3 linked regions of the Homo sapiens genome follow. The protein of the gene in region 3 interacts with the protein of the main gene of each other region in a pairwise test. Each region holds a gene or a part of one and is shown on either strand. Other genes may lie near its edges.

Region 1 (7,812 bases), on a different chromosome or scaffold from region 3:
GGCAGAGATGGAGTAAGTCACAGCCTGATTGCGGAACAATCAGTGCTCACTTGTTGCCCACGCTGCCCGGTAACTGTGGGCATGCAGAAGACAGACTGACTGGGAAGAGTTGAGTATCGAACAATTCTCCGGTGACAGTGTTCTTACGGTGCTGAAGCAATGAACGCCTGGCCCATTCAGTGCAGGGCTCACGAGACCAGGCCACACCTGAAGAGGAACACACTCTGCCCCTGGGTTGAAGTGACAACGCAAGAGTTTGTGATCCACAAGCAGTCGCCCATCAGCCCTGATGGCAGGCACAGTGGTTGATCCCTCCAGCTCAGTGGGTGAGGGGAGCGGGTGTCTTTGGTTTTGCATCCTTGCTCACTCACATGAGCTATAGGTCCTGAGCCTTACTGCCACCGTGTCTCCTCACTCAGATTCGCAAGTACGCAGAGGGCACGGGTGTTTGTGGGGTGGTTGATGACAACAACACTCATCCTGCCAGAAGTGGGACTCAGCTGGTCTTAGAGTGCCTGGCTCAAAGTTAGTGCTCGGTAAGTGTTTGTTGAATGAATAACCGATGAGGCAGAATTTGGACAGGAGAATGTGGCAGTTAGTTAGTGGCTAGGAGTCTCAGGTTAGGGGTGGAAAAAAAGAGGTTGGGGTCCATATGGAGTTGGAAAGTCACATGGTTGGGAGAATAACATTATCGACCTCCTAAGAGTCTCCAGGTACAAATGAGCTCCTGTAGATAAAGTGTTTGGCCCGGATGCTGGCACATGGGAGGCTGAATGTCAGTGATGAGGACTGGCATTTCAGGCAGGATGGTGAGGGTGTGTGGCATGCCAAGGATGTGACGGTTGGAGCACAAAGAGGCCCGGGACCTGTGGGAGGCTGTGTTGGACAGGTGGGTGGACCCAGCTGCAGGAGACAGATGGGAGGAAGAGGGACTTCTGTAGCCCAATGTTTGAAAACCATCTAGTCTCCAACCCCGATCCCTGCCCCTCTCCTCTCCAAGTTCTGTAATCTCCACAGCCTCTCAAATTGGGATGGTTTGGCAGGGGTGGGGTAGGAGCAGAAAAAAGCACACACCCTTCCAACTCCTAGAGGGAGGAAAGGCACCAACTTGGCCTTAGGTTTTAATAACTACTTAAACTGGTAAACATCCTCATTTTAAATCAAGAGGCAACTCCCTGGTCTAGATGCTAGAAAGCAGTTTCATAGTGCTCAACCTGCTCAGCTCAGGAAGACCTGGCCACTACGCACCGTGGGTGGACAGGAAAGAGTGGATCCAGCCTCAGCTGGAAGACCAGAGAGCCCGACTCCCCAAATGACCTGCTTCCTTCCCTTGCCCCAGCCTGCCTGAATCTCACCCCAGCCCTCTCAGTTGTTCATTTGTAGCTGGACAGGGAATGTAGCAGGCAGCGTAGACCGCCAGGCTGGGAGGCATCAGCTGAGACTGAGCTGGGAACCCTGGGACTTGGAGCCAAGGCCAGCTCTGCCACAGAGCACGGAACCTGGAGGCCACTCTCTAGGCCTCAGTTGCCTTCTCTAGGAAAGCTAGTGGTTCGGTCTACAAGAGCACTAGGCCTGGAAGGCCCCTCACTGGTTAACTCGCAAACCTGAGGTGAAGAAGGAGGGATCCGATATTTACTGCACTCCTAAAACTCAGCACTTCACACACTTAGTCCCCCAAATAGGCATACTTGTTTTATGAGGATATCCTGTTTGAAGCCCTTGGCAAGGTTTTGCAAATAAACAGAGGTTCAGAGAGCTGAGGGCTTCATGTTACGGGGTAAGGAGCTGAGATTTGGACTCGTCCATCTGACTCCAAAGCCAGACTATCCCCAGCACTCAGCCAGCGACCTTTTGCCCACTCAGCTCTCAGGTGTGCGCCTTTGGACTTCACTCAAGAACTTTCACTTTTTAACCACCTGAAGCCCTGCCCAGCACCTTGGTCTCTGATAAGTCCAAGAAGGGAAGGGCTGTGGGCCAAGGATAGGAGATATGAATGGGAGAGGAATCTACCTGTTTGACATCTCTAGGCTGGAGAGGGAACATGTGTGATCCCAGCTTGACCTGGCCTGGTCCTGGGGACCTCAGCAAACCTGGGGCAGGCTGTTCAACCCCCAGGTGGACAAGTGGCCCAGCCTGAGCTCCCTGCTGGCTCTGAGGCCAGCATTAGACTGTGTCACTTCCATACCTGCTGCCGGATTGCCTGGCTGAGGCCACCTGCTCCATTTAAGCCCCCTTCAGGACACTAGTGACACCATCTACCCCACCCCGCCCACTTACCCATTAGACATTCACTAAGCACCTGCTCCTTGCCAGCCCCTCTGCAGGCCACCAGGGACAGAGATGAGTAAGACATAGTCTGGGTCCTCCAGGTGCCCCTAGCTGATTCAGTCAGCTTCGGATGGGACTTGGGGATCTATATTTTTAACAAGCCTTGCAGGTGACTGAGAGGACACACCCAGGTGAGACCCTTTGGTTTTGTGGACCTTCTGGCTCTCAGCACTGTATTCTTGGGGCTGCCAGAATCCCCGTGAGGACACAGCCTGTTTCGCCCCAGTGGTAGGTTCCTCTGGGCTCCAAGTCAGATAACTCTGGGTTCAAATTCTACTTCTGCAACTTCCTAGCTGTGTATCCTTGCAAAATACGTGGACTCTCTGAGGCTGTTTCCCCATTTTTAACAAGAGATAATGGTGCCTTCCTGTTGTGAGGATTAACTGGGATATTGTGCTCAAAGCCCTTAGCAAGATGCCTGGCACACATAAATGGGAATATCTGCTGTTAATTATATTATGGCTGCACTCTGATGGACAGAAATACCTCCCTGGGGGCATTTCCAGAATCCCCACTTCTGGAGCCCATCTCTGAGGTGGCCCTGGATATTTGGGAGGCCTCTCTGTGCCCTCTGCCAGGGCTCCAGCGGGACCTTCCTGCTTCTCCCCACGGATCCGGCTTTCTGGTCCCCAAACCGCATATTATCTGGGCACACCCTCCCCTTCATTTACCCAGAGTGACCAAAGTTCCAACCACACCTCTCCGGGCAGCCTGTCCCCAAATTTCGGGGAAGTGGGCAGGAGGGGGAGCTTTGCCGGGCAGGAGGGGGAACTTTGCCAGGCAAGGGCTCCGCGGGCAGAGGCGGGCACTGGTGAGGCCAGCCTCCTCCTGGGGACCAAGGTCGGGCGCCCCTGCCCAGCCCCTGCACCTGCCCCTGTCCCTGCCCTGTTCGGCTGCGAAGGGACTGGGAGGTCTGGCGAGGAAGAGCCTGGAAGATCCCCGCCCACAGCTACCAGCCCTCCTTTGGGACCGCTGGCCAGAGCCCCAGCCGTGGGGCACACGGGACCTGTGGACTCAGCCGGGGTCATCCGGAGGGGCGCCCACATCTGCACCCGGGGCTCCGGAGCCTGCTCCCCGCCACTGTCGCCGCCGGCCCTGCCTAACCTGCGCGGCGCAAGCGGCTTCCACGCCTAGGGAAGGAAGGCACACGGGGTGGGGGCCCCGGAACCCGGTTTCTCTGCCGCCGGGCGCACGTGGCTCGGTCCCAGGGGACAGAAGTCGCCTCCAGACGTGTGGCGGCACCCGAGGTCCGCGCAGCGACGGCGCAGGGTGCAACCGGGCGGGCGTCTCGGGGACCGGGCGCAGCACGCAGCCCCGCGGAGACCGGGGGAGGGTACACTCACCTCTGCGGCCCGCCGCTCGGAGCGACCGCGGCAGCTGAAGGTCCGCGGCGAAGGCGGTGGCTCGGCCCGAGGCTCCTCCTCCCCCGCGCCCCACCCGCCCGGGAGGGCCGGACCTGCAGGGGAGGTGGCCGCCCTCCAGCCCGCCGCAGCTTATCCGGCTCGGCCACCTCCCCCGGGGCCGCAATCAGGAGCCGCCGGGTCCTCGCTCCCCGCCCAGCCCTGCACAGCCCCGGCAGCGGTGGCAGCGTCCAACCACCCTCCTCCCCTGGCCCCAGGCGGGAGGTCGCCAGCCGGCGCCAACACTTCCTGATTTGCAGTGCCCGGCACACGGCTGAAGTGAGCAGAACTCCGGGACCTCCTCTTAACCCGGCCACGGAGGGCACCGAGGCCAGGGTGACCTCTAGGCCCCCCTCTCTTAACCTGAGGAGCACCTCGAATCCTTGTCCATTTTATAACCGAGGCCAAGTGGCAGCCACGGTTGCAGGTGGGAAGAGACCAGGGCTCCAGATTGGGTCCGGATCCCTTCCCTCTCAACAAGGTTGCGCCCAGGCCTTTGTGGTCCCCCCCCAATCTCTGTCCCTTGTCCACCCTTAGGGCAGACTTTTGACCCTTCCCAGCAGTCCTCAGGTTCCAAGACCGGTGGGATGGCGGGTACCTTTCTCCCGGAGCTGCCTCCCTGTCTAGGCCTTCTGGGCTCTGAAACCCTACCCGTCCCCCCTTCCCCCTGGGGCACTGCCCGCTGCCCTCCGCACTTCCAATGCCGATGGCTTCACAGCACTGCAGCGAAGCAGGGCGTAAGTAAGGGGAGGCTGTCTGTGGGCACCTCTCTAGAGGTGTGCGCCCTGGTCCGAAGCCCCTTCTCACCTGTGGTCACATTTGCCGGCTGCAGTTATTTTCTTTACAGGTGAGGAGACCCGGGCTTTTCCGCTCAGATTCGTGGAGGCTGAGTGGGGGTTCCTGACCCCTGGTACTCTTTCTAGAGTATTCCTGGGAGACATACACTATTAGCCTCTGATAAGGAGCTTCAGGTTATTTTTAGGAAGTCTAAGAATCCTGTTTTCTGGGGAGCCAGCCTCTGTTGGGGAGATAAGCCTCCGGAGGCCAGAGGCAGGAGCTGGGCCTCAAGGAAGGCCCCACAACTGGACCCCAAAGGGCACGGTGGGGAGGAAGAGGCAGAGCTCTGGTCTCCCTGTGGAGGGAGTGCTGCTGTAAAGCGCCTTTCCCTCCACCCCCAACTCCCGCCGAGAACCCCCCCACCCCCGCAGGCAGTTTGCTTTCCCCCTCCACAGCTTTCCTCCTACCCGAATACCCACCTCCCAGCTCTCTGCTCAGCCAGGGCCCAAGGCCAGAGCCTCTCTTCTCTTGCAAGAACTTTCCTGTCCCACCTTGCCCCAGGGCAACACCTCTTATGGCAATTCTTACAGGTCCTTTATCCATTCAACACTCACAGTGCCCCAGGTGCCAGACAGTGCTCCCAGTGCTGGAGACACACGTGCCCAATGGAGGTTCCTGCCCTTAGGGTGCCAGGGCTGGTGAGTGGCCCCTGCAGTGGGTTGTAAACTTTGAGAAGACAAGACCCAGTTCCTAGCCCCCTCTGGTGCCCCTAATATGCTCCCCCTGCAGTAGCTGTTCTTTTGATGCCTGCTCCTGCTGATGGGGATGGCTGAATAGCCTTCCTTTAATGCCCAAGGACAGCACAAGGAAACCGAGCTTGGGAAATGCAAACACTGAGAGGTCTTCCAGCATCTTTGGAAGAATCCCTGGGAACCAGTGTCTTTTTGTGGGGCTCTCCATGCATGAGTAAGAGAGAGGAAGACTTTTTTTTGAGGCGGGGAAGCGGGGCTCTCCATGAGTAAGAGAGACAGGGGGAGACATTTTGAAGGCTGGGCTGCCAGAGGTCTATAGAGGATTATCTTAAAAGGAACATGAACTCCTGCTGGAAAAAGTAGAGGGGTCTGAAATTTCTCACAGACAGGGAGGGAGGTGAATACCCTACTTGGGCCCACACACTTTGGCAGAGAGGCCACCGCCCACGCCGTTGACCTTTGGTGCTTGTTCTGTCCACTGACCGTTGGACTAAGGGGGCCTTGAGTGTGAGCTTGTCTCACCTGGCATGGGGTCAGGTGTTTCCAGAAGCTTGAGAGCCAAATTTCCCAAAGCAGACGAGCCCTTTCCTACTCCAGGGAGGAGTGCAATGTGCTGAGCTTTGTTGAGCACCTTCTATGGGCCAGACTCTGGTGTCCTCTGCCAAGGATAGAACAGTCAGAGCCATCCTTGCAAGATGTTTGCCAGATCGCATTTCTCCTCTGCTCAAAACTCTACCCCCTCCCCCAGCAAAAGTAAAGTCCTTGCAATAGCCGTGGCCCAGTGTGATTGGCCTTCTCTCTGCCCTCATCCTCTGTCTCCCTCTCTCTGCTCACATTCAGTCCCACCTCAGATGAATCTGACAGGATCCTGACCCCTGCCGTTCCCCTTGCCTGGACCCTAGGCATCCCCAGGTACCCTCCCTACCTCCTCCAAGTCTTGGCTGAAAGGTCATCATTTCTGTGAGGCCCACGCTGATCGCCCCCATTCCTCATCCATGTACCTGCTTGCTTTCTTTTTTTCCCCATAGCCTGTATTACCTCTGAACACACTATAAAATAGAGTTTTTTGGACTGTTTTTCAGTAACTGTCTTCTCCCATAGAAATGTGAGCTCCTCCTGGGCAGGGATTTTTATGTTTTATTCAATTCCGTATCTCTAATGGATAGAGCACTGCCTGGCTCATAGTAGGTGCTCAGTAAATACCTGTTGCATGAATGCACACCCGTCCTCACACTTCCTTGCCTCTTTTAGCATCTCAGAAATGTCCCCACAGCTCCTGCCTACTCTGCTCTCCTTTTTATGCCCCCAGCTGGTGTGATGCTGATTCAGAGGGGTGCTCCACTTATGCACTTAGGGATGTCTGCCCCTGGAGTTGCTGAATATTCAATTTACAGAGCCCCTGGGATTGCCCTTTTTCCTTGAAGACAAGGTTAGCTGTTTGGCTAAGAAGAGAATAGCATCCAGGAGAAAATCTAGATTTATTTCTTATTTGATCAGGAAGGAGAGGGATGTTGCTCACCCTCAGCTTCTTGGATTAATCCAGCATTTATAGGATGGGACAGAGCAGGTCCACTTCACAAAATAAATCCTCCATGAAAACGAGATGGCCACGGGAAGCTGTATGCCCCAATGTACTCTGACACCCTAGCCAGAAGCCAGGCCACTTGGATCTGGTCCTGCCCAGTGGGCCGTGGCTGCAGGAAAGGTGCCGCTCCCCACTGATGCTCTCCCCACTAGACCAGGTGCTGCAGGACTCCTCCAAGTTCTGGAGCACAGGAAGCTCTTTCCTATGTAAGGCTGCATTCAGGGCAAATGGAGGCATTGTCTTTGCCATCACAATGACCTGATGGGTGGAGGCACATCAGCAGCAGTCAGAGCTGAGGCAGGGCAGGTAGTGGGAGAGGGCACTGAGCGGGGAGGCCAGCTGACAAAGGGGTGCTGGAGCCTGGGACTGAACCTCACAGATTCTGCTTTCCATGGCCCATGATGGTGACCCAATATTGTACAGCATTATAAAGTGTGGCTTACAGGGCATTAGGACACCCCCCCCTCCACATACACACACGAAATGTCCCTGCACCCCAGAATTTGGAATTCTACTGGAGCATAAGGTTGTCCTCCTTCCAGTCTTCTCTCGAAACATGAGCCCTCCAGAGAGGAAGCACTGTCTGAGCTCTGTGTCATGAGAATCTGTGTATCTGCAGGGAGATGTAACTGTGGCCAGCGCAAGAGTATGGAGTAGCTTCCAAAGGAAGTTGCTTTTTATTTGTTTATTTTGGCTCAAGGGAGCATTGATAAAGGCAGTTGCTGAAGGAAGAGTGGATAAAAGATGCCAGGGTGGAGGGTGGGTGGGGGAGCAGGACCAACCATCTTTCTGAGGGAGCTTCCTGGCGCGTAGTAGGTACTTAAACTTTTGTGTATGATCAACGGTCTTGGCTTGTGACTAGACCAAGATCGCCAACCAGAATGGAGGGAGGCTGACCCAGCACATCCCGGAAGCATTTACAGAGCCAAGGAAGAGATTCTTCTTGCCCGTCTATGATAACATTGCATTG
Region 2 (8,008 bases), about 25 Mb from region 3:
TTGAATCCTCATGCCCTACTACTATGCAAGAATCTATCAGCTTTAAAAGAATTTCAAAGAATTTCAACATTTTAGACATAGTGTTTTCTTACTGCATTTATTAGTATTTCAACTAGAGCAAAATAGAACTATGTAGACATACTGGCCCTGAGCTATATTAATTTAGGTTATAATTTTCTCTTATTAGGGTCTGTTGGCTTTATACAGTTAACATGAGCAGGGTTAGAAGTAAATACTTAAATAACCCTTTCTCCATTCTACACAAACAGCACCCTAAAAGCTTTAGAGAATGTGCAAACTTCAAAATAAAATCTCGCTGAGTCTGTCCTCCTGGAGGCTGGGCTCCACCACCACACCAGGGGAGGGAGAACTGCTGGAGACGCTGTCCCCACACCTGGCTCCAGGAGAAGCACAGATAAAACCCTGGAGAAATCCAACACTGCTTTCCCCTGAGGACTGGAGAGACAGAAAGACTCACGTCTTTCTTGTTGTTTTTAAAGAACTTGTAATAAAAATAAAATACAAGATAACTATTAATCTATTTCTCAAAATACACTAATGACCTCAAGCACACCATCTTGTGGGATGTATTAATAATTTAGTCACTATTTACCACTTGGGACATTGATGTGGTATTGATGTTTAGGGCATCGATGTGAGTGAGCGCCTCTGCTTTCCTTTCAAGAACTTTATTTTCTGCCACAGCCGAGTGACTCCTGAAGTCCGGTGTTTCCAGGTGAGAGGAGTAGGCAATGCGGAGCACAGGCCAAGGCCTCTTCCTCCAGCACACACCTCTCCACTCCACACTGATCTCACTCCAGAGAAACCCAGGGAAGTCACAGCCCTGACCTGCATCCCAGAAGTCTGCACTCTTATGGAAATAACGCCCACAAAGAGAAAACTGGAAAACTGCAAGCTGCGTACAGGATGCTGATGGGGTCCCAGGTCACAGCATCGTTCCCAAAATGACCCACACTTAGACCAGCAGCTTCATATTCAGTCATTTGCTCGCCAAGGGAACTCAGTAGCCAGGTCACCGGAGGGGCTCTTTCAAACTATTCATGGTTCCAACCCTTCTTCCTTGGTAAGTTCTACCCAAATCACACCGGCCCCCAACCTCCTCCTGCCACCGCCCAAACCACGCACTCACCAGGATGTCTCCAGTATCGCCTGCCATAGGCTCCATCTACTTCCATGGCCACCCTGTGAGGCTCTGTACTGGCGACGACTGTGCCTCACTCACCCTCATTCACTTGCCTTAACTCCGAGGTGCTCACCTGCTCCTCCTGCAGAGGGTCCGCATCTGGGGCCATGGTTTCTCTGCACTTTCCTGTCACTGTGCTCACACACCCCATCTGGTGCCAGATGGGGCCAACCTCAGGGGACACCAGGAACACAAGTTCCTCCTTGAGTTCCCAGGTGCCAGCACAGTATCTGACACCCGGCTGGTGTCCATGGTGGTTATGCATGAACAGTCTGTACTGTTTACACTGCAGTGCACTTTTGATGGACTGATATCATCTACCCACCTCGACCCCGAAGGCAGGAGTGATTTGTTATGCTTATTTTTCCTCTCGAGGCTACCAGTCTCCTGTAGACAAGAAATGTGCAGTAACATGACCCATTTGTGTGAATGGCTGAACATTTGCAGGATCTCAAATTTCATATCAAATATCCCATAAACAATGTGATGGGTCATAAAAGATAGCAAGAATCTATGTAAAAACAATTTTAAGGCTGTGCACGGTGGCTCATGCCTGTAATCCCAGCATTTTGGGAGGCCAAGGCGGGGAGATCACCTGAGGTCAGGAGTTCAAGACCAGCCTGGCCAACACAGTGAAACTCCGTCTCTACTAAAAATACACACACACACACACACACACACACAAATTAGCTAGGCGTGGTGGTGGGCGCTGTAATCCCAGCTACTTGGGAGGCTGAGGCAAGAGAATTGCTTGAATCCGGGTGGCGGAGGTTGCAGTGAGCCAAGATCATGCCACTGCACTCCAGCCTGGGCAACAGAGCAAGATTCCGTCTCAAAAGGAAAAAAAGTTTAAAGAGTTTAACATGAAGAACATTTTGACATCAATATGACAATCAAGTGACAAATATTTTTAAAACATGTTCTTCAAAAACAGAAAGAAAGTGCTAGGCAAATAACTATGCTAGGTCCCAACACTTCTGAGCACTAGTACAACAACCTTATTCAAAAATAAAAAGCAAGCAAGGTATGTGTGTACGCACAGATATTACTTCAGTTTTTCTAAAGTATTAAAAGAGGCCAGGCACGGTGGCTCACATTTGTAATTCCAGCACTTTGGGAGGCCCAGGCAGGCGGACCACAAGGTCAGGAGTTCAAGACCAGCCTGACCAACATAGTGAAACCCCATCTCTACTAAAAAGACAAAAAAGGTAGCCAGGTGTGGTGGTGCGCACCTGTAGTCCTAGCTACTAGGGAGGCTGACGCAGGAGAATCACTTGAACCCAGGAGGCGGAGGTTGCAGTGAGCCGAAACCATGCCATTGTACTCCAGCCTGGGCGACAGAGTGAGGCTCCGTCTCAAAAAATAAATAAATAAATAAATATAGTATTAAAAGAAAGGAAAAAATTAAGTGCTTCCAGACGCTATCTACTGAGCCATAAAATCTACTGAGCTTTCTTTCCTTAAGGAAGAGAAAGCCTAAAAGACTTAAAATTAAGAAAATTGCCTCCAGCCTGGACGAGAGCCAGAATCCGTCTCAAAATAAATAAATAAATAAACAAAACCAGAATATTGCATTCAACTAAAATGAGTTTGTAACTGAATGTGTGTGCTGCAATCCAGCCTGCTGTTGAGTTTATGGCAGCGTCCAGGACATTGTAGCCAGTGATTAAATGCGTGAGGCACATGTCATCTTCTGCTGATGCATGCACTTACCTTTAAGAGCATCCAGGAAACGCAGGTAAAGGGCGTGCTCATCTCCAGGAGCAACGTGGTCATAGCTAGATAGTGGCCAGCTTGGAGATTGACCAAGCAGCCAAGAAACCCAAGAAAGGCAAAGAGATGGTGGATAACCAGAAACAAGTCAAATGTCCGGAAGATCAAGTTGGACAGGTGGACTGCAACATTTTCAAAGCAAAAGAATCCCGTTGCTGTCGTGATGTGAAACCAGCACCAGTTCTGCTGGCCACGCGCCTTGTCGGCATGCAGCACAGGGTCCCCCAGCAGAGCCCACAGGCCTGCGGCTGTGCTCTGAACACCAAAGACTGCACGCGTGGCCGCCAGGTCCCAGAAGACCTTCTCTCTGGCCACCAAAGAACGGTAAGTGGCATTCAGGGAAGAGGACAGCTGGTGGCAGACCACAAAGACGCCCAAGTAGAAGACAAAGCCAGCGACCATCAGCGTGGAGCGGATCCCCCAGGATGCATAGTCCAGGTCAAAAATGCTCTCTGATGTGCCCCCATCGCTCGCAGGATTCATTGTCCACAGCTATATTCCAAAGGAGTCCTGGGGCCAACACGGGCCGGGCCCTACACTGTGTCTTGTCTAAGGAAATGAAGTCAGTGCAGCGGTCCCTGGGATTGTCACGTATCCATCTTCAATCTAAAAGAAAGATCATTCATTTTGTGTTGACTCGATAGAAACAAGGACACATCACTACCCCAGTAACGCAAACATTAAACTACAAAATATTTAATTCTGTACCTTATTCTTAATGAACTTACAAGGGTGCATAAACATACCAAGGTAACATCCACTGACAGTATAGGAGGAAAGAAAATGAAACTAAAGCTAGAGCGGTCCAGCCACGAACAGGAGGCCGGAGCCGTGCTGGCAGGAACACACGGTCCTATGCTCGTCCTATGTGCACCCCACCAGCAAGTCTCCCGCCTTCACAGCAGTCCCAATCAGTCACACAATTCAGGCATCGCAGGATGAAACATATTTAAGTCATTACACTGGGATACACTTTGTTACAGCACTGAACTTCTGCTGTTTGATCCTAGTTAACACCCCAAGGATGTCACGAAAACCTGTGCTCCTGTTCTTCATGTTATTCCTTGGTTAAGGCCATGGAATGCCTTCTCAACAGCAGCAGGGAAGGCCTGAACTCCTCACTGTGACCTACGGCACTCTGCAGAATGTGATTATCAATTATACCTTCTCTGGTTCCACTCTCACCATCCCCTGCATCTCACTCCATGCTATAACCTTCCAGTCCTTTGAAAACATCACACTCTCCTGCACCTCTGGGTCTCTGCAGCTGCTGGGCCCTCTCCTGGAAAAGTCTTTACCTTCCCCAAGTTGGCATCATCTTACCTGTCAGGTCCTCACTTAAAGGCCATTTGCTCCAGATGCCCTCCCAGAGTAGGGGAGACCCATGGACTGGGTTAAGTACCTTTGCTACAAGCTCCTGATGCATACCCCAAACACTCATTTTTGGTGTTTGGGGTGTTAACTAGGATCAAACAGCAGAAGTTCAGTGCTGTAACAAAGTGTATCCCAGTGTAATGACTTAAATATGTTTCATCCTGCGATGCCTGAATTGTGTGACTGATTGGGACTGCTGTGAAGGCGGGAGACTTGCTGGTGGGGTGCACATAGGACAAGTGCTTACTGAATCCTCACCTCCACTGGACAGCAAGCTCTGTGAGGGCACAGACCACACCTGCCTTCCATCACAGCATCTCCTCTGCCTGATGCAGCACTGGGTCCACAGTGGGCCCTCAAGAAACATTTATGGAACACATGAACAGATGCTGAATCATGCTGAAAGGGTCCACTTTACCTAAGCCTGAACCTGTCTGCAAAGCTACAAACACCAGAGTCTCAAGTTCTTGAAAAACTGGAAGGGACGTGTGATTGATTCCAGCCTTTCCTTTTACACGGCAGGAAACCCAGGCACACAACGATGACATAGGAACGGCTACCGACAAAGACTCAGGTCCCCGCCTGGTCCCCCCTCACCCAGTGTGCAGGGACTTGTCCAGGTAATGGAATTTCTGCAGGGAGTGGGGACTCTTGTCACTCACACCCAGCGAACAGACAGCAGGGCTGGGAACACCACACTCCCCACGCAGCTGGACCCTCTGCTCTCCGGAAGAGACCCCAGAATTGACTCAATTGTGAGACAGCAGGACTAGAGCCAGAAGCATAGGAGGAGCCATTCACTGTGGCCATTCAGCAAAAACTTGCCAATCATTATTCAGGCAAAAAGGTCGCTGTGACCACACCCCAAGGACATGGAAAACACTAGCTCACACAAGCATGCAAAGAATGTGAGTCCTGGGACCTGATGCAAATGACAAGGGAGCACTGATCACTCCTAACCTCTTGCTTTGATAATGGTCTATAATCAAAGGCAAAATAGTACAAGAGTTTGTCTGTTTCTCCATTAACACTCCAGCTTTAACACAGACTAGCTCTGTTTGAACACAAATCTGATGTGGGGAAAGACAGCACTGGTACTCATGTTTCTCCCTAGAGAAACGGCTCCCGTGTCATGCTGCCCCTGGTGCGTGAGTTCAGGGCACACAGGCGTGCTCTCTGATAGATGCTATGGATGACAACTGAGGGGCTGCCATGCCCATGTGTGCCCTCGTGACCCACACTTCTGGTCATGCTATATATCAAGACTCCAGTGTACTTACACATCTCCAAACACATTTCTGTTAACCTGTTGACAAATCAGGTTGAACATGGTATTAAGGGGCTGGCAAGAGCACTCGGCTCTGGTATTCAGTGTGCAGCAAGGCATCGTTGAACCCCTATGCACTTCACAGGAGCAGATCAACTTCAAGTGCAGCCTAATGCCTGGAGGGGAGACCGCTTACCAGCATTAAAGAAAAGCAGGCTGGGTGGAAAGGACAGGTATCAGGCAAGGAATAGCATCCATTACAAGGGTTAACGTGAACAACACTGTTAAAGGTTAAAATATGGACCCCTCGTAAAACTTCTCCCTGTACTTTTCCACGAGTAGGTCATCAGCTCTGACTTATAGGTCCCATTTTGCCACAGTTGCATCAATGTCCGCTTGGCCAAGACCACTAACTTCTGTAGGACCTCTGCCTTGAGACGAGAGAAACCCCGACTCCAGAAGGCTCTGCCCAGATCAATGACTCAAATCCACCTCAGTGGAAGTGGTGAGCCCAAGTGATGCTTCAGGAGGTCTTTGGTTTGGTCAAGGTGAGAGGGACTCCAGGACATGAGAACCAAAAACCAAGAAGAGCGGCTGGCTTAGTGGGCTCTGATCTTGATTTCACTATTTAGGAGCTAAGAAACCAAGTTTCAGGCTGGGTGTGGTGGCTCACACCTGTAATCCCAGCACTTTGGGAAGCCAAGGTGGGTGAATCACTTGAGGTCAGGAGTTCAAGACCAACCTGGCCAACACGGCAAAACCCTGCCTCTACTAAAAATACAAAAATCAGCCAGGCGTGGTGGTGCGCACCTGTAATTTGAGCTACTCAGGAGGCTGAGGCAGGAGAATTTCTGGAACCCAGGAGGGTGGAGGTTGCAGTGAGCCGAGATCACACAACTGCACTTCAACCTGGGCAACAGAGCAAAACTCCATCTCAAAAAAAAAAAGAAAGAAAGAAAACAAGTTTCTTTCCTAACCACCCTGGACCCCAGAATCTGACTACAGGAAAAAGAAATACACAGAGCAGGCCGAGTGCAGTGGCGCACGCCTGTAATCCCAGCACTTTGGGATGCCAAGGCAGGTGCATCACAAGGTCAGAAGTTCGAGACCAGCCTGGCCAACATGGTCAAACCTCGACTCTATTAGAGATACAAAAAATTAGCTGGGCGTGGTGGTACATGCCTGTGATCCCAGCTACTTGGGAGGCTGAGGCAGGAGAATCGCTTGAACCCGGGAGGTGGAGGTGGCAGTGAGCTGAGATTGCGCCACTGCACTCCAGCCTGGGTGACAAGATGAGACCCCGTCTCAAAAAAAAAAAAAAAAAAAAAAAAGAAAGAAACATACAGAGCAGCGGGAAATGAAGCACCTACTACAAGCCAGATGTTCAACTAGTTTGTGTGATCTTCACCATAAGAGCAAATAGCTACCAGGTCTTCAAGCTTTCTAGATATCTTTTTGGAGAGATTACCATATCTACAGAAAAGTGGCAGATAGGTGAAAGACATGGAAACAGAAACAGGTAAGCCACAGCTGAGTGGGCAAACCCTCCTGGCAGTCAGAGAACAGGTGCCAATTAGGGATGCAGAAACAGCAGATTATAAAGACCAGAATGCTTACTTCCCCTTCCAGTCCTGTAGTGAATCCCCCATTCTGATTCTTTGCTCAAACCTCCTGACTTTCTGGGTAAGCTGGTGCTGTTCTAGTCTAACTCGTTACTGTGGGTCTCTGAGTTTAGTTAATGCCAACCAGCATCCTCCAGCCAGGAGTTCACAAAGGAGGTGAACTCCTCAGCTCTCTCAGCCATGAGGGTAGAAGGCCAGTCCCAGAGGCAGGATCCAGCCCAAGCGCCCAGTCTTCCTGGAGTCCTGCAGAGCTCTGCTGTCCTTTCGTGGCATCAGCGTTGTACTGAGAACAGCTGTGGTTCACCCCAAGTCACAAGGTGGGCACCCACAGAAGTGTGGCTAGGCCTTGTTCTGTCAGGCAGCACAGAAGGGGTATGGGAAGAGCTCAGCTTCTCCTTTTGCTTCTATTTCTGCTCCTTGACCCAACCACACCCTCTCACTCTTGATACGCAAAATGGGACACAGGGGTTCCCACTGTTCCCTTGCTGTGCACCATAAGGCTCAGGCCACATGAAGGAGTCCTTAAGTGTAATGCACAGCTGGAAGTCACTGTTCCTTCCATGGGTAAAACTGGAGGCCGAATCGGCCGGGCAGGGTGGCTCACACCTGTAATCCCAGCACTTTGGGAGCCCAAGGTGGGAGGATCACGAGGTCAGGAGATCGAGACCATCCTGGCTAACATGGTGAAACCTTGTCTCTACTAAAATACAAAAAAAAAATAGCCAGGCGTGATGGCGAGCGCCTGTAGTCCCAGCTACTCGGGAGGCT
Region 3 (8,557 bases):
TCAGTGTGTTATTCTACCTAATTGACAAAGGTGGCCAACCTTTCTGTTTCTTTTTAGTATTGTTTCTTAATTGTACAGTTTTCTTATGAGTGAAGATACTTGGTAGGTGTACGTGATTTCACTGAAAGCAAAGGGATTTTCATCTTCCTTTGACCCTTTAACAACAACAACAAAAAGGGCTGAGCCAGGCAGGGCACGATGGCTCACACCTGTCATCCTAGCACTTTGGGAGGCCAAAGCGAGTGGATCACTTGAGGTCAGGAGTTCGAGACCAGCCTGGCCAACATGGTGAGAGAACAACCCCCTCTCTACTGAAAATACAAAAATTAGCCTGGCTTGGTGTTGGGCGCCTGTAATCCCAGCTATTCAGGCGGCTGAGGCAGGAGAATCGCTTGAATCCGGGAGGCAGAGGTTGCAGTGAGCCGAGATCACGCCACTGCACTCCAGCCTGGGTGACAGAGCAAGACTCTGTCTCAAAAAAAAAAAGGGGCGAGGGCGGGGGCTGAGCCATATGTCATTGTTTATCTTGGTGTCTGACAGACCTATGAGGAGTTTGATGTCTTTGGCCAGTCGGTTCCTGCTTGGCTGACATCAGCTCTTACAGAGGTGGAAGTACACTCAGCCTGCATGGGACATCAAAATGTTGCTTTGGGACATCTGCTAGATAGAAAGTATTTTGTGTGGGATAGGGTGAGCTTTCTGAAAAGCTTTTAGATATTGCCATATTTAATTACTCCCTTCTTGCCTCTCACTCTGTTCGTTTTTTTAGCTCATTACACAACACTGTACTGAACAAAACAAGAAGCCTCATTGAATTCCTTGAAGTGATTTTTGGGCAATGGGCAAAACAACTTATTCAGGCATCTAGTACTATCCAAATTGCTGATAAGTCGAAGGACTTTGTTGGGTAAAGTTGCACAACTGAAAAACAGGAGAAGAAATGTACAGATTATCTTGCGTTTGGGATTTTATCTTTGGTTCAGGGGTCAAAGCAGGGTTTCAATAGCAAATTACTGAAGTATTTGAATAGTGAAGTATTTTTGTGATTTTTTTTTAACTTTACCGCTGTGGAGAGACTGTTCACTTTCATTAAAAATTACAGGGCAAATACCCAAACTCCTTCCAAGTCAAAAGGATGTTGTCCAGTTTGTTTTATTGTTAAGAAAACTATCAACTTCCTTAAGAATGTTTGAATAAGATTCAATAGGGCCGAATAAGGAAAATCAAAGTAGTAGTGTAAATCGTAGTATAATTCTTGTTGTTGAGAAGTATAGCCTTTTTTTTCTTTTCAAATTTTCTTGTTCTTTTTTGTTTTTTGTTTTGTTGAGACAGGGTCTTGCTTTGTCACCCAAACTGGAGTGCAGTGGTACAGTCATAGCTCATGGCAGCTTAGACCTCCTGGGCTCAAGTGATCCTCCTGCCTCAGCCTCCCAAGTAGCTAGGACTGCAGGTGTGCACCCCCACATCCAGCTAATTATTTTATTTCTTGTAGAGTTCGAGTTTCACTTTGTCACCCAGGCTGGTCACCGGCTAACTTATTTTTTGTAGAGATGGAGTTTTGCTTTGTTGCCCAAGCTGGTCACAAACTCTTTTTTTTAAATAGAAACATCTTCAAGCACAATGTCCTTGCTTTCTTGTTATGAAGAGTGCTCTTAAGGCCTTCATGGATTGTCACTGCCTCATAATAATGTTTTGAATACCTACGTAACTTGTATGTAAATACATACTGCTGCAAAAAGACCAACTTTTCAAAAATTTATTTATTTATTTTTTTATTTAAGAAGAATGCCAGTAACTCTTGTTGGCCTGGTCTGGATTTCAGCATCAGGTTGGCCTGGTCTGGATTCCTTTCAATAATGAATGAAAAGCTTTGAGGAAAGAATGTAAATATAATGAAATTTCAAAAGAGTTACATGTGGGCCTTGAAAAGTTAGGGGGAAAGATGAGGAGAAATACTCTTCATTCTCTCCTCCCCTTGTCCCAAAGCTCCTCTCTTCTTCTTCTTGCAAGAGGATTGAACTAGTGATTATAAAACTGTAAAGATTATACAACATACGGCAATGAGTATAATCACAATTATTGGACCACCCTTCACAGTCTATTATGTTAGAGAACGGAGAAGCATTCACAGAAGTTTCTCTGAATCTCTTAGTCATTCCCAAAAACCCAAACCAGAAAATATCTCATGTCATTGTATGTTATGTACAAATTGGCATAAGGAACAGCTCTTAGTTTGTAAAGTCTTTTAGATAATGGAGAAAGCTTCCAGCTTTTAGTTTTCAAGCTTGATCATTAGGAGGAGAATTCACTCTGTGGTTGTTTTCTACTTTGTGTTGCTTGGACAGCACAAACCTCTTATCTAGCCTTGTTTCCTTTCCAAGTAAAAAGGGACTTTGTGAGGATTGGTAGAGTTAGAACACTAAGAAATTCTGAGGCTGTAAATCAGGAACAAATCGGGTGATGGGAAACAGACGTGTTGTTCATCTATTGAGGAAGACACATTTGCTTTTTTATGTGTTACTCAAAAGATTAATATGTAGCCTCTTAATGCCTGTGTACATAACTTTCTCTGTACCACTATGTATTTCCATAGATGATATTTTTGAAAGAGAATTACCCTTAATTAATTAAAGGAAATCTACACTTTTAAGGCTGTTAATACCTATTGTCAAATTATTCTCCAGAATGTTCACTGAAGCCCTAATTGTAATAACAAAGTATTAGAAACAACCATCTCAGTAGTAGTTAACCATTGCCATTTAGATAATGGTTAAAGTATGGTATATCTTTATAAAAGATGAGATGCAATGCAGTTGTTCAAAAGAATGAATGTCAGTATATATTGATAGGGAAGACATCTGAAAAACGACTTACAGAATATGTCAGTATGTGTGTATGGTACAGTTCCATTTCTTTATAAAAACAAAAGCAAAAACAGACCTATATTTCATTGACAAAAACTCTGCAAGTCTCCATGTGAAACTGTCAAAAGTGGCTCCTTTGGGAGTAGGAACGGGAGGTTGGGAGAGATGTTAATTTTTAATTTTATGTACTGATGTTTACGTTTTCTAGGAACACATTTTTCCAGTAAGGAATGGTTTTTCTATGATATAGAATATAATTGTAGTAGCTAAAACTTTCTTAGGGACCTTTCTTATTGTTCTGCGTGCTATATTCATTTAATCCTCCTAACAAAGTCTTCGAGGTAGATACAGTTATTATCTCTATTTTATAGATGAGAAAACTGAGGCACAAAGAGGTTAAGTACCCTGTGCGAGGGTAACAGCTATAACTGAGAGTGGGAGCCTGGCTTCAGTCTCAGCCCCTGACCACACTATACCAGTGTATCCCAAGTACAAATTGTCCGCCTTAAGTAGAAATGCTTTCAGTTATGATTCAGGGTGTGGAGGCCACAGCAGAGATCACTTTTACTAAGCTTTTCTAGGTATGTCTCTTTCAGGTTCCAAAAGTATATATTGGATTATGATTGCTTATGTGTTTTTAATGAAGAAAATAGGATCCAGACATTGATTTGAAAGTCCTTCAAAAAAGTAAAAACCAGGTTGGGAGCAGTGGCTCATACCTGTAAGCCCAGCACTTTGGGAGGCTGAGGTGGGAGGATTGCTGAAGCCCAGGAGTTTGAGACCAACCTGGGCAATGTAGGGAGACCCTGTCTCTACTAAATAAATAAATAAATAAATAAATAAATAAATAAGTCGGGCATGGTGGCATGTGCCCTGTAGTCCCAGCTTCTTGGGAGGCTGAGGTGGGAGGATTGCTTGGGCCCAGGAATCAAGGCCGCAGTGAGCTGTGATTGTGCCACTGTACTACAGCCTGGGTGACAATGCAAGACTGTCTCAAAAGAAAAACAAAAGTAAGGACCAGAAAACCTGATATTGTTTGTTACACCCTTTTTTCTCTTCGATTGCCTACTTCAAGTGAATATTAATTGTATTTTAGGGAAGACTGACTTCCACAGAGACCTATCTGGAACTCCTGGTTCCTTACCTCTGCTTCTGTCAGAGCAGCTCTGGGTTTTGGTTTGTTACTATTGTACACATTAGGCTTCTATACAAGAAGAACTGGTCCCATTGGTTTAAAAATAAGTTTGAAAATCCTAGAAACAGTGAGAGTCAGAAAAAAAAACTGTTTTTATATACATATTCTCTCCCCCACCCCCTTTCTCTCCAGTTGAAATATGTTGCAGAGCTCTAAATTTAGGGATGCTTTTGGCGTATTTCTTATACACTCCAGAGGCACTCGAGATAAATTATCTTCAATGTTAGATCTCTCTTAGCTTTGCTAGTTGTATTTGTTAATCCATTTTGAGTTCTCTAGCCTGTGTCCATTTTATGTGTGTATAGAATGAGGCCATGGAGATGTTGTACAACTGTGTCGTTTGGCAGCAGAGTCCTAAGGAATTGGTGGTGACTATGGGATGGTGGTAGCCACTGGGGCTGCCTCAAATGGAAAGGAAAGGGTTCTAAGTATTTATAAAAGAAAATTCTAGTGTATAACTGAGCATCTTCTATTTACCAGCACTTGATACTACTAAATCGTCACAGCACCCCGGTGTTATTATTATCTCTGTTTACAAATGAGGAAGCTGAAGCTCAGGTCACACAGGTAGACAGGAAGTGATGGGGTCAGATTCCCAGCTAGGTCTGCCTTGGAGCTTTCCTTCTTGTGAGGGTGATGTTCAGTTCACTCTGGAACTGGTGTAGCCATCGCCACATTTAGAGTGCATTTTAGAGTTTGAGCCAGTTTTGATGATTTTACTTCAACTTACTGATGGAACTCCTTGTTCATCCCTGGAACTCTCTAACACTTCTGCTGGGAGTTTAGAGGGATGGCCACACCAAGCTGCTTGGGTACATTTTCTAAAACAAAATTTATTGTAAGAAATGGAAATTATGAACAAAATATACCACTATCTCTTTTTGCTGTGAAGTTAAGTTTATTGGCTACTGTTAACAATTTATTTACTTACTTACTTACTATTCTTTTGTAGAGACAGGGTCTTGCCATGTTCCCCAGGCTGGTGTCAAACTCCTGGATTCAAGCAATCCTGGTGCCTCAGCCTCCCAAAGTGCTGGGATTACATGTGTGAGCCACTGTACCTGGCCTCAACTCTTGTTAAAATTAAAGCACCTTAATACGTTTAGCAAACTCATCAGACCAATAAATATTTTCAAGATGTATGCAGAATTACCAGTGGCACATCCCCTTTTTCTGTGGCTCCACCCCTTCAACTTTTTGTCCAAGAAAACTTTTCGTGTTTGCCTGTAGCTGATGTGCAGTTGTTTCTGCTCCCAAATCAACAGGGTTTAATGAAAACCCTAGAAAGTAGAAACCCGTGGGAGAGAAAAGAAAAAAGACAAGTTCACAAGGTATGTTTAGTGTATAAAAAAGGAGAAGGACTAGAAAGCCTGAGATACAAAGGAAATGAAGAAACTAATCAGTGAGATAGAGATAAAGCTTTTTTCTGAATTTTTAGCATTATTACCTGATTTAGTTAACCAGCTGCATTAATTTTATGCTCCTGATTTGTGCACAAATTGAAATTTTTGCTATTGGATTTAGGTTCCCTCTCTAGGAGTTTCTCAGTTGTTTGCACTAAGTAGGATATAGTTGCTAACTTACTTAGATGACCTTTTATGAAATTTGTAGGTGATATATTTATTTCATTTCTGGAGCAGATACAGCTGAGCAGCTTAGGTAGACTATGAAGAAAGTGTGTGTGTATATATACACCAACTAAAATGTTAAAGGTAAATAGCCTAAAAGTAGCAATTTTTTTTTGAAAAGCAACCTGAGTTTTCAGTAGAGTGTTATTATAAACCAAGCTTTACCCAGAGAGAAATTGACTGAAAAACACGTTTTCTGAGATGTTTTAGAGTTTGAGCTGTTTCTCAGTTGATGGCATGAGCTATTTCAGGAACAGAACTATATAGATCTTTAGACTTTTATTACTTCTTATTTATTTTCTTCAGAATACTTTTACATTTGGTTTGAGGAGAGTCAGAATTCTTATCTGGATTCACCATGTTCACATCTGTGTGCACATGACAGATTTCAGTTCTGCTGTGGTTAACTTATCTGACTTGTCCAACAGGTTCCTGGGTGGAGCTACCCATGAACAGCAGCAATGGCAATGATAATGGCAATGGGAAAAATGGGGGGCTGGAACACGTACCATCCTCATCCTCCATCCACAATGGAGACATGGAGAAGATTCTTTTGGATGCACAACATGAATCAGGACAGAGTAGTTCCAGAGGCAGTTCTCACTGTGACAGGTAAGTGAGACCCATGTTTTGGTGGAATTCAGGAAACAGGTGGGTTACAGGGCTCATTCACTCTAGGAAAAATCTGTTTGCTTAAATCTTCACTTAGCAAAATATGCCTCCTGATATATTGTAGTATAATATATATTGCACAGATATATATTGTGTTTATATGAGACAGCTAATTGACAGGTGCTTCAGTGCCCACTGTTTTTCCCCAGATTGTCATTTTTCTTACCCAGATTATATTGTTTCTAGCAGTTTATCAGTTTAAAATTCAGTGGCATAAATGCTAATTTATAGAATTAATCTGACTTTCCCCCATTTTCCTTTGTGTCCCTGTGTTACAGATCACAGACTGTTCTTGAATTAGTTACCTCTGTATATATGTGTCTTCCCTTCTAGATGTTGACGTTGCAAAGGGCAGGGGCCATGTTTAATTTTTATTACCTTCACAGTAATGGTGCTGGCACGTAGTAGACACTCAGTAAATGTTTGATTCATAGGAACTGCAGGTTGCTTCACGTTATAGCAATATTTGCACAGTTGGAAGCACCAACCAAGGTCTGTAAAGATAGTTTTGAAGTCTCCTCTGCTTTCTCAGGGGATGTTTTGTTTCAGACCTCATTTTTCTATATTTGAGCTGAAGAAACTAATTACATGGATTAAGGACTGCTTATGGTGAAAGAGTAAGAATACAACGAGATATGTGTGTGGAATGAAACCAGGTCATTATTTTTTAGTATAAACTTTTCTGTTTTTTTTTTTTTTTTTCAGAAGGGCTAGATATTAAATGACATTTAAGAAATTCTTGTTTCAGTGACAGCTACACTGTTAGCATTATGGGGCACTGGATGACCTTCTGGGTGGTTGTTAACTGATGTTAACCATTTAGAAAATGCAAATGCACGGGAAGCAGATTAAGGAAATGTAAACAGTGACTATTTTTAGGAATGCAGTATGGATATGTTTCTTCTTAACATTTTTGTATTTTGTAAAAATTGTGTATATTGCACATATTATTACTTATCAGAAGAAGTGAAAAAAAGGAGAAATGAGTTAAATCATGTCCAACTTCCTGAGTGGCTTATGATCCACTAATGTTGCCAAGGCAGCGGGGGACTGGTTTGTTGGCTCTGTGGCACACTGTGCACCCCCGCCACCCCCGTGTCATCCCTGACTTGTCCCTGTGCTTCTTAGAGCCTGGGATGGCTCTTGTCATAAGCGGAACCAGAGCAGATGGCTCTCTTCTGAACAGCTTGCCCTTGATTCCAGTAGCTACAGCATTAGTCTGTCTTTCCGAATGAAGATTTATATTTATATTATGGAACTTGCTGATGGGTTTCTCAAGTTTTCTGCTTGTTATGGCCTGTCAACAAGGCTTTCACTCTGCGTTCAGGTGTGTGGGCCTTGATCATTGATACCATGGTGTCCATGAGCCTGTTGTTCACATGGTGCTGTCAATGAGCAGAGAACAGTCACCTGCTTACCTGTCTGTTCATCTTACTTCATTTATGGTGCAGTTTTACGTGTGACTGAATATGCCTTCACCCTCCTATGATCATGTTTAAGTTTAGGTTGCCATGAGGAGGCATGGCAAATGCTTTTGAACACTTTCGTACCCCTCATCTTATGTCTCTCCAGGCCCTAGATTAGTGGTCATCTTTCAGAGAATGGCTAGAACTCGAGTCTTCTGGGATAGCCTACTAACACGCTTTACCATTGAGGAGTGTCTTCAAAACTCACATCATCTGAATTGCCATGCGTCTCTATATGTGAAAAGTAATTGGAAAGTGTTTCTTGTAGGGGGAAATGTTTTAGGGTTGTTGGGTATCAGTCCTAGAGCTGATTTATGTATATTTTCAACTTAAAAATTATTCCATAGAAATATTTGTGTTGCCGCAGGGGTTGTTAGCTGGGAACCCCAGTGTGTTCTGCTTTGCCTTTCACCCTGTCACAGGGGTTTTCACCTTGACGGCACACTAGATTCACCCAGAAGCTTTTAAAAATGGCAGCACATGGACTGCATCTCAAGAACTTCTCATTTTGGTTGACAGGGGCAGGGTAGAGACGTCACAATATTTTAAAAGCTCCCCAGCCGATTCTAATATGTGCCATGGGTGAAGCTCTAATGCATTCCAAATTGTTAGGAGGAGTAAACAGTTTAGAGAAGAGGTTGGTACCAGTGTGAAGAAGCATATAGAAGCAGAGCAATGCTTCCATAGGATTCTTGACTTTGTCACCCTGACTGCCTTGACCTGGTCACGGCT

The links.
Region 1: the proteins of BNIP3L (region 3) and STEAP3 interact in a two-hybrid assay, tested with the Homo sapiens proteins (one study listed by BioGRID).
Region 2: the proteins of BNIP3L (region 3) and CLN8 interact in a two-hybrid assay, tested with the Homo sapiens proteins (one study listed by BioGRID).

The regions. Positions count from the first base shown.
Region 1 is NC_000002.12:119,219,748-119,227,559, reverse strand, and holds the start of STEAP3 (metalloreductase STEAP3), read right to left. Parts: upstream 3,727-7,812; 5' UTR 3,672-3,726; intron 1-3,671.
Region 2 is NC_000008.11:1,766,507-1,774,514, reverse strand, and holds part of CLN8 (protein CLN8), read right to left. Parts: intron 3,584-8,008; 5' UTR 3,461-3,583; coding exon 2,918-3,460; intron 1,592-2,917; coding exon of another isoform or gene 1,343-1,591; exon of another isoform or gene 1-1,342. UniProt on the Homo sapiens protein: Could play a role in cell proliferation during neuronal differentiation and in protection against cell death.
Region 3 is NC_000008.11:26,385,128-26,393,684, forward strand, and holds part of BNIP3L (BCL2/adenovirus E1B 19 kDa protein-interacting protein 3-like), read left to right. Parts: intron 1-5,285; exon of another isoform or gene 5,286-5,390; intron 5,391-6,115; coding exon 6,116-6,299; intron 6,300-8,557.